Regions from separate parts of the Homo sapiens genome. Here region 1 is reported to be linked to region 2. Evidence: microRNA targets listed by miRTarBase, many of them from high-throughput screens and not tested one by one. Region 2 holds a microRNA gene; the other region holds the end of a gene's coding sequence.
The links. The annotated mature microRNA hsa-miR-767-5p reads UGCACCAUGGUUGUCUGAGCAUG and lies in region 2 at 2,405-2,427, shown strand. An mRNA with a match to its seed (bases 2 to 7 or 8) in the 3' UTR can be bound and repressed. Matches are read on the target gene's strand: a 7mer-m8 pairs with bases 2 to 8, a 7mer-A1 pairs with bases 2 to 7 and ends in A, and an 8mer does both.

Region 1: miRTarBase lists MCF2L2 as a target of hsa-miR-767-5p. The part of its 3' UTR that is shown has no 7-base or 8-base seed match.

What each region holds. Positions count from the first base shown.
Region 1 is chr3:183,175,945-183,179,944 of GRCh38, reverse strand. It overlaps MCF2L2 (MCF.2 cell line derived transforming sequence-like 2), which reads left to right. Exons shown (of 30, transcript NM_015078.4): 29 at 253-368; 30 at 442-1,904. The coding sequence ends at 565. Among named protein-coding and RNA genes, the nearest start is that of LAMP3, 15 kb to the right of the region's middle. RefSeq lists a silencer at 595-684.
Region 2 is chrX:152,391,755-152,395,907 of GRCh38, reverse strand. It overlaps MIR767 (microRNA 767), which reads left to right and starts at 2,379; the gene lies at 2,379-2,487. All of the region lies in intron 1 of GABRA3 (gamma-aminobutyric acid type A receptor subunit alpha3), which reads left to right. It overlaps MIR105-1 (microRNA 105-1), which reads left to right and starts at 3,609; the gene lies at 3,609-3,689. It overlaps MIR105-2 (microRNA 105-2), which reads left to right and starts at 1,416; the gene lies at 1,416-1,496.

The DNA.
Region 1 (4,000 bases), not on the chromosome of region 2:
TAAGCCAGGGAGCCGAGGTCACCAGACCCTCAAACTGGCTCTGACCCTCCTAGTCCAGCATGTCCCCACGTGGCTGTCTCCTTGGCGGTGCGCTGGTGTCCGGTCATAACTGGGGCTCCCGCTGAGAGCCCCGTGGCCCAGGTGGGAGGGCTGGGGTGGGCCTCAGCCTGCCAGCGGGAGTCACCACCTTGCCCGGTCTGGCCACAGCCTCCAGCAATAACTCTGAGGGTGCACCCGTCCCCTCCCTTCCAGCTCGCGGGCCTTTTCCAGTCGGACGACAGTCACGAAACCTGTTCCTCCAAATCTGCTTTCCTGGAGAGGGGAGAAAGCAGCCAGGGAGAAAAAGAAGAACGCGATGAGGAGGAAACGTGAGTGTGAGCGAGGAAAGACTAAGCGCCTCTTTGGGCCACGGCGTCTCTGACTTTCTTCTCGGAATTGCAGGGCGACCCGCAGCACCGAGGAGGAGCGCGCTGGGGCGTCCACGGGCCGGCTGGCTCCTGCGGGGGCGACGGCTGGTTTCCAGGCGAGGGCGCTGCGCCCGAGGACCTCCGCCCAGGAGAGCTGACCTCCCTGCGGACGCCCCCGCTCCTCGGCTCCAGAGCGCCCGCATTCCCGGGAGAGGCGGTGTGGGGGCCCGGGCCCTGCCCAGCTACGCAGAAAGCAGCCGGAGCCTCGGCGGCGGCAGAAAGGGGACAACCAGGGCCTCCTCCGAGGAGCCCGAGGGGTGTCCTGGGTGCGCGCCTAGCTCCGCACGGGGGACCTCGGAGCTGCTCTAAGGCGCCTGCAGAGGCGAGCAGAGCCCGCAGCCCACGCCTTCTCGACCGCGCACTTCGATATTCGGAGCCGGGCAATTCTTTGCTGCGTGGGCTTCTCTGTGCTCCCACGGTAGGATGTTTAGTAGCACCCCTGGCCTCTACCCACTAGGTGCCAGGAATGCGCCACCCCATCCTCCACCCCGCCCCCAAATCGTGACAATCAAAAATGCCTGCAGACACGCCCGCATTTCTCCAGGGCGGGGTGGGAATCGGTTGAGAGCCGCTTAGCCCGAGCCTTGGAGGAGCCGGAGCCGCTCCAACCCGGCGGGGGCCGCAGACTGGGAGCTCCCGGTCCGCCTCCCAGCATCCCTGCGAGCGTTCATGGGGTGTTCGTGTTAGTGCCAAGATTGCTTCGTTGTAGAGAGAGTTCGTTCCAAGTTACTTTCTGAGGTATTTTATGTATCGATTTATTAGTTTTTAAATGAGTTTTGTTAGTTTCAGTTGTATTTTATTTTTAGTTTTATTAGTTGATTTTCATTTCTTTGTAGCTTTCTGGTTATTTAATTTTATAGTTTCAGTTACTGGTTTATAGTTACTTTATTTTCAAAGTTATTTAGTTGTTCATTTTCAGTTATTTATATGTAGTTGTTTTGTTTTAGGAGTTACAGATGTTCAAATTAATTTGCTTGGAATTTATTTATTTATTTATTTATTTATTTTTCGAGACGGAGTCTCGCTCTGTCGCCCAGGCTGGAGTGCAGTGGTGTGATCTCGGCTCACTGCAAACCGCCTCCCGGGTTCACGCCATTCTCCTGCCTCAGCCTCCTGAGTAGCTGGGACTACAGGCGCCCGCCACCACGCCCGGCTAATTTTTTATTTGGATTTTTAGTAGAGACGGGGTTTCCCCGTGTTAGCCAGGATGGTCTCGATCTCCTGACCTCGTGATCCCCCTGCCTCGGCCTCCCAAAGTGCTGGGATTACAGGCGTGAGCCACCGCGCCCAGCCGGAATTTATTTTTAATTATCTTTACAATTATTATCTGAGTTATTTACCTTCATAGTTATTTCACTTTATCTTATTGGAGTTTTTGAGTTATTTATTTTTACAGTAACTTATTTGACTATTAAACACTCACTGGAAGTTCATGAACTACTGTCAAGTTATTTATTTTCAGAGTGAAATGTTTTAATGAAGGGTTTCCCCTAGTTATCTGGTTTTCGAGTTGCTTATGTTCACAGGTATTTATTTTCAGTTATTTTATATTTGAGTTGTTTATTTTTATGTTCTTTTTTTCAAGTTACTTGGTTTTTAGTTATTTCATTTTCAGCATTACTTCATATTTGAACATTATATTTTCTGAATTTTTAAAGAGTTTTTGAGGTATTTAGTTTTTGAGCTATTTTCAGAGTTATTTATTCTCAGTTATTTCTTTTCAGCTTTGTATTTGCCATTCAAATTTTTTTTCTGTTCTTTATTTAATTGTCAGATTTTTTTTTCTTTTTTTTTTTTTTTGAGATGGAGTTTTGCTCTTGTCACCCAGGCTGGAGTGAAGTGCCGCAATCTTGGCTCACTGCAACCTCCGCCTCCCGGGTTCAAGCAATTCTCCTACCTCAGCCTCCCAAGTAGTTGAGATTACAGGCACCTGCCACCATGCCCGGCTAATTTGTTGTTGTTGTTGTTGAGACGGAGTCTCTCTCTGTCACCCAGGCTGGAGTGCAGTGGTGCAATCTCGGCTCACTGCAAGCTCCACCTCCCGGGTTCACGCTATTCTCCTGTCTCAGCCTCCTGAATAGCTGGGACTACAGGCATCTGCCACCACGCCTGGCTAATTTTGTTTTGTATTTTTTTTTTTTTTTAAGTAAAGATGAGGTTTCACCATGTTAGCCAGGATGGTCTGGATCTCCTGACCGGGTTTCGCCATGTTTGCCAGGCTGGTCTCCAACTCCTGACCTCAGGTGATCCATTCGCGTTGGCCTCCCAAAGTGCTGGGATTACAGGTGTGAGCCACCACACCCGGCCCTCAGAATTATTTAGAGTTAGAATTCTTAGTCTACTAGTCAAGTTTCAATCAAGAGACACTGTATCAGTTATTTCAAGAGAGAATTTAATATAAATAATTGTTATCCAGCTAGTAGAGATTTAAAAAAAAGTAGTGATAATGAGATATCATGAAGATTTTGACTGCAAGCTCCCAGCCCAAGGACTCATACAACAAAGAAAAGAGGTTGAAAATATCAAAACTCAGAAATATGAAGGTGGCCCTAGGGCTGGGGGTTAGTCCTCTGAGGAGGAGGCACTATTAATTGTACACGTGGCCCAAGGGCTCAGAGCTCAAGGTCCAGGAGCTGGACGCAGAATTCTGGAGAGGGGACATGGCCAGCCCGTGCTGCTGTCTCTGAATGGGCATCAGCAGGCTGGTTATAGGAGTGCTAGGAAAATGGCAAGCTGGAACCAACTCCCGCTACTGGAACCAGCTGTCACTCTCAGGGTGGAGACAGGATGCTGACAGTGGGGGTGGGGTGGGGTGCACACAGGAAGGAGCCCATGGTGACCCTGCACCCCAGAGCTGGGAAGGGTGGGCTGGAAGCTTAATTACCAGCACACTCAGCTTTAGAGTTACATAGAGTTATGTTAGGATTCCGTTAGTTTTGGAATTGTCAGGGGTGATTTGATTTCACATTTTCATGGGATATGGGATTGGGATGAGTCTTCAGTCTCCTGGTTTGTTTCTGGAATAGAGTGGGCCACACCTCCCAGGAGTCTCCCCCAGGGAACTCAAGACAATCACTTTAGAATTCAAGAAAACAAAAATAATGTGTCTCACTTCGTTCATAAAGAAGGCCTTTGACAACGTGGCCAAAAAGGGGCAGAGCCTAAGGGACAGACTCTTAGAAAGATGCCCTTGGAACAGGGTCCCGCAGAGTGTTCCTCTCAAATTCTTTAGAACTTTACACTGTTTTGTGGGGCCACCCTCTCCCACGCCCTTTCCTAACAACAGTGTCTTTCTTGATAGAGTATGTTTCAAATTTGTAGACTGTTTGCACAATAAAATAAAGTTCCTCCCAAATCAAGAATCTGTAATCTTAGGTTCTTCTACCTGCATTATTCTTCAGCCCACATTGTTCCATTTGACCATCAGAATGTTTACATATGTATATATGTCTGGATGGATGGAAGGATGGATGGATGGATGGATGGATACACTTATTTTATTCAATATCTATTTCCTGAGCATTCCCCTGCCC
Region 2 (4,153 bases):
GTTCATCCGAGGAAGCACTACAGCTTAGTTCTCTGTTCATATATCACTGATGTTTGAGATTGATCTGTGATTGACCAACTTCTATGTCATGGTTATCACACTGTGCAGCATGTTACTAGCTCATATATCAGTCATGTCGGGCTCCTACTTCAACATTGCTTTTTGCTCTTGTACTATATCCAACTGTTCCTGTATTTTGCGTATTTACAGCGATATAGTCTTGGGATATAGTCTTCTCTATTATCATTCATTACCTCACATTTTATGGTTGTTAAGTTGTGCACCATGATCAGATGCTCAAACAAAAGAGCCATCTGAGCATATGGCATGAGGTGTCATTTTGCACCACTGTCATCTTATCCTTAACTGAAAACTTGATTCAGTATTGTGGATATCGGATAGGGACATGCGTCTGAATGGATACCACTCCTGAAGGATAGCCAACTGCTTGTGTATTTTATGTGTATACTAATTGATTCTCTGTGTATACATCATAGATATTGCTCACCCATCATTAATGTGTAAAAAATAAACATAATCTCCTTCTGTGTGGAGAATGATAACTTTAATAACATGAATATTAGTTCCTGAATTGTGGTCACTGGCTCCTGCAGAATGGGTATTTTCTCCATATTTGCTGTCTGTTCCTGTATCATGCTTACTAACTGTATCATAGCTGTTAGTTTGTGTAATGGGATCGTTTGGATTTATATCATGCCCAAACACAAATGTGTAGAGTCAATCACCATGGTTATTTTTTTTATGAGTCATTATGTCCATGTGAGTCTTTTTTTTGTACCACTGTCATCTTCTCTTGGGCCAAAGTCATTAATTGCTTGCATGGTTATTTTTGATTACATACCATATCTACCCAAGTAAGAATCACACCATGTTTTATTTCCATATCATGTCCATCTGCACCTGTGTCATAATTGATAGCCTATGTCCTGTAGGTGTCTGACTGGACCTCATGAACACATATTAAAACATGCTTTTTGGCATCTTATTCATCTGAACATCCTGTATTATTTTGATCTTCTTTTTGACAAAATGCCATACATACCCGTATTTTTTGTATCACCTGAGCAGTTTTTACTCTGTGATTCTTTCCTGGGATACCATATCTATCCCCTTTTTCATGTATGAATTGACCTATTCTCCATGATAATATAAACATACATAATGAATTTGTGCTCATATACTGTGATTGAAGTTGTACTACGTATTTAAACTTAAACACCACACTTGTGTGAAAATACACAATCATTGTCTACTTGTACTGGGAATGAGTATTTTGTACTATGTATATTAATTTCTACACCATGTCTTTCACTATTGTGATGAGTTTTCTCTGTCCTTTGTCATCTGTCTACTCCCTATAACCTGGTATCAGCTCATGTTGCAGATCTTCTGTGTGTGCATCGTGGTCAAATGCTCAGACTCCTGTGGTGGCTGCTTATGCACCACGGATGTTTGAGCATGTGCTATGGTGTCTACTTTTGCAACATTGCCATCTGCTTCTGGAACAAAGCCACTCATTTTTCTGCTCTGTTTTAAAATCTGGTATCATGTCTGTCAGAAGAATCACAGCATATTGTCATTTATTGTCATATTTACAATAATGGATAGTGGAGCCAAAATGACTGAATTTGAATCCTGGATTATCCACTTACTAGCTATGAGATCTTGGACACATCAGTTCATGAAATGGACACATCAATTCGTATCTTCATGCTTCAGTTTCCTGCAAAATGACAAAAAAAGTAGTAAGGTTATTGTGAGGATTGTATAAGCTATTATACATAAAATATTTTTAATACTGCCTGGCAGGTAGTGATGATGATGATAACAATGATGATGATGATGATGACATGACAATGATGATAATGATACTGTGTCCCTTGATCGTGTATAATAATTGTCAGCTCAAATTCTGGAGTTCTCTAAGTGTGCATTATGGTCAAATGCTGATACTTGTGATAGTGTTTAAAGCATCATTATATAAGTATATGCCATGGCAGTCATTTGAATCGTTGCCATCTGTAGTATTCTATTAGCTACTGCACTATCGTTTTCTGCTATTTTATTATCAGCATCTTCTTCAATATCCTTGTTCATCTGCTCCTATATTATGGTCATCAGCTTATTTTTGTTGGGATATCTGGGTGTACATCGTGGTTTAACAGTCAAATATTAGTGTTAGTTGCTCATGCACCATGATTGCCTGAGTATGTGCCATGATATCTCCTCCAGCATCATTGTCATATGCTGTTTGCCTAAATAAGTTGTATTCATGTGTTATGTTTCCTTTATTCATATGTCCTGTCCATCTGGGCATATTCCTCATTGTGTTATTCACTCTTGTATCACACCCACCTGCTTTTATATTGTAGGTTTTTGCTCATGCACCATGGTTGTCTGAGCATGCAGCATGCTTGTCTGCTCATACCCCATGGTTTCTGAGCAGGAACCTTCATTGTCTACTGCTTTACAGGGAAATAGTGTTTTATGCATCGTGTATATGAGTTTAGTATTTACTCATATTCTATGACTCTCTACTCTTAGATCACTTCTGCCTTTTTCTGCACATTGTTTATCTGTTCCAAAAAGACAGATGTTATCTCATGTCACTGGGCTTTCTAATTGTACATCAGTCAAATGCTTAAATGCCTATGATGTGATGGCTGTTCATGCAACATGGCTGTTTCAGCATATATCATAACTTCACCCGTTTAATCATTGCCATCTTCTCCCAGACTAAAGAAAATAATGATTTTTAATCACCAACCATATCCGTTTTGGTAATCATGGTTTCATGTCTACCTGCTCCTGTATCATTCTTTTACTTTATGTCGTGGGATTGTGTAGGTAGCCATCATAGTCAAATGCCCAAATACTAGTGGTGGCTGTTCATGCAATGGTCATCTGAGTATATGGTGTCAGGTCTCTTTTGACATATCTGACATCTACTCATGGACAAAGCTGTTTACCCCTGTACCGTGGCTCTTGTATAAGGCACAATATCTGTCTAAGTAAGCACCACAGCATGGTTTTATTCTCCGAAAACAAGTTTGTGTGCTGTATCTATCTATGCCTCTTAGCTCCTTTGGCATAAATGCTACGTAATAGTGTAAACTACTTTTGTGTACCTGTGTAAGTCAAGATCAAACAGTCAAATATCACTAATGGCTTTCATCAACTTTTGTCTGAACATGTTACACGGTGGGTCCTCTATGCACCTTTGCCACCTACATTTGAAATAATCATTCATGTATTGAGATGTTTTGATCTTGTACTATATCCATCTATGAGGTCTCCACTTATGATTATTTTCTCATAAGATGTCTCTTGGCTCTAAGTGAGCCCTGGCTAATTTTCCATGGTTGTATGAATGTGCTTATGCCCTTTAGCTATGGTCTTCTGCTCATTCATCATGATTTGTGAAAATGCACCATCGTTGTCTACATTGTACTAAAAATGGAATTTTCTGTACCATGAATATAATTTTGTGCACCATGATTTTTTGTCATACAGTGTGTTTGCCTCCTTCTTCGTCCTCAGTATCTACTCCTATATATTGGATGTCAGCTTCTGTTGCAGAACCTGAGTGTGCATCGTGGTCAAATGCTCAGACTCCTGTGGTGGCTGCTCATGCACCACGGATGTTTGAGCATGTGCTACGGTGTCTACTTTTGCTACATTGCCGTCTGCTTCTGGACCAAAGCCATTTGTTCCTGTGCTCTGTGTTTCTAATCTTGTATCACATCCATATGAGGAAGCATGGCACCATCAGTGTATGTGCACAATGCTCACTGCTTGGACTTAAATCCCAGTTCTCCTATTTAATAGTTTGAAATTCTTGAGGAAGTCATTTCACCCTTCTGTTTCTGTTTTCTAAACTGTAAAATAAATAATAATACCTCATAGAGTTGTGAGGATTCAAAGATGCACATGTAGAATGCTTAGATTAGTGCCTGACACATATAAATGATAAGTATTTGCTGATATTGTTATATTATTTGTATTATGTCTCTTTATTCTTTATCATGACTTTTAGCTTGCATTCTGAGAATGTCTGGTTGTGTACCTTAGTCACATGCTAAATTACTGGTGGTGGCTGTCCATTCAGCATGGTCGTCTGATGTTATACCTT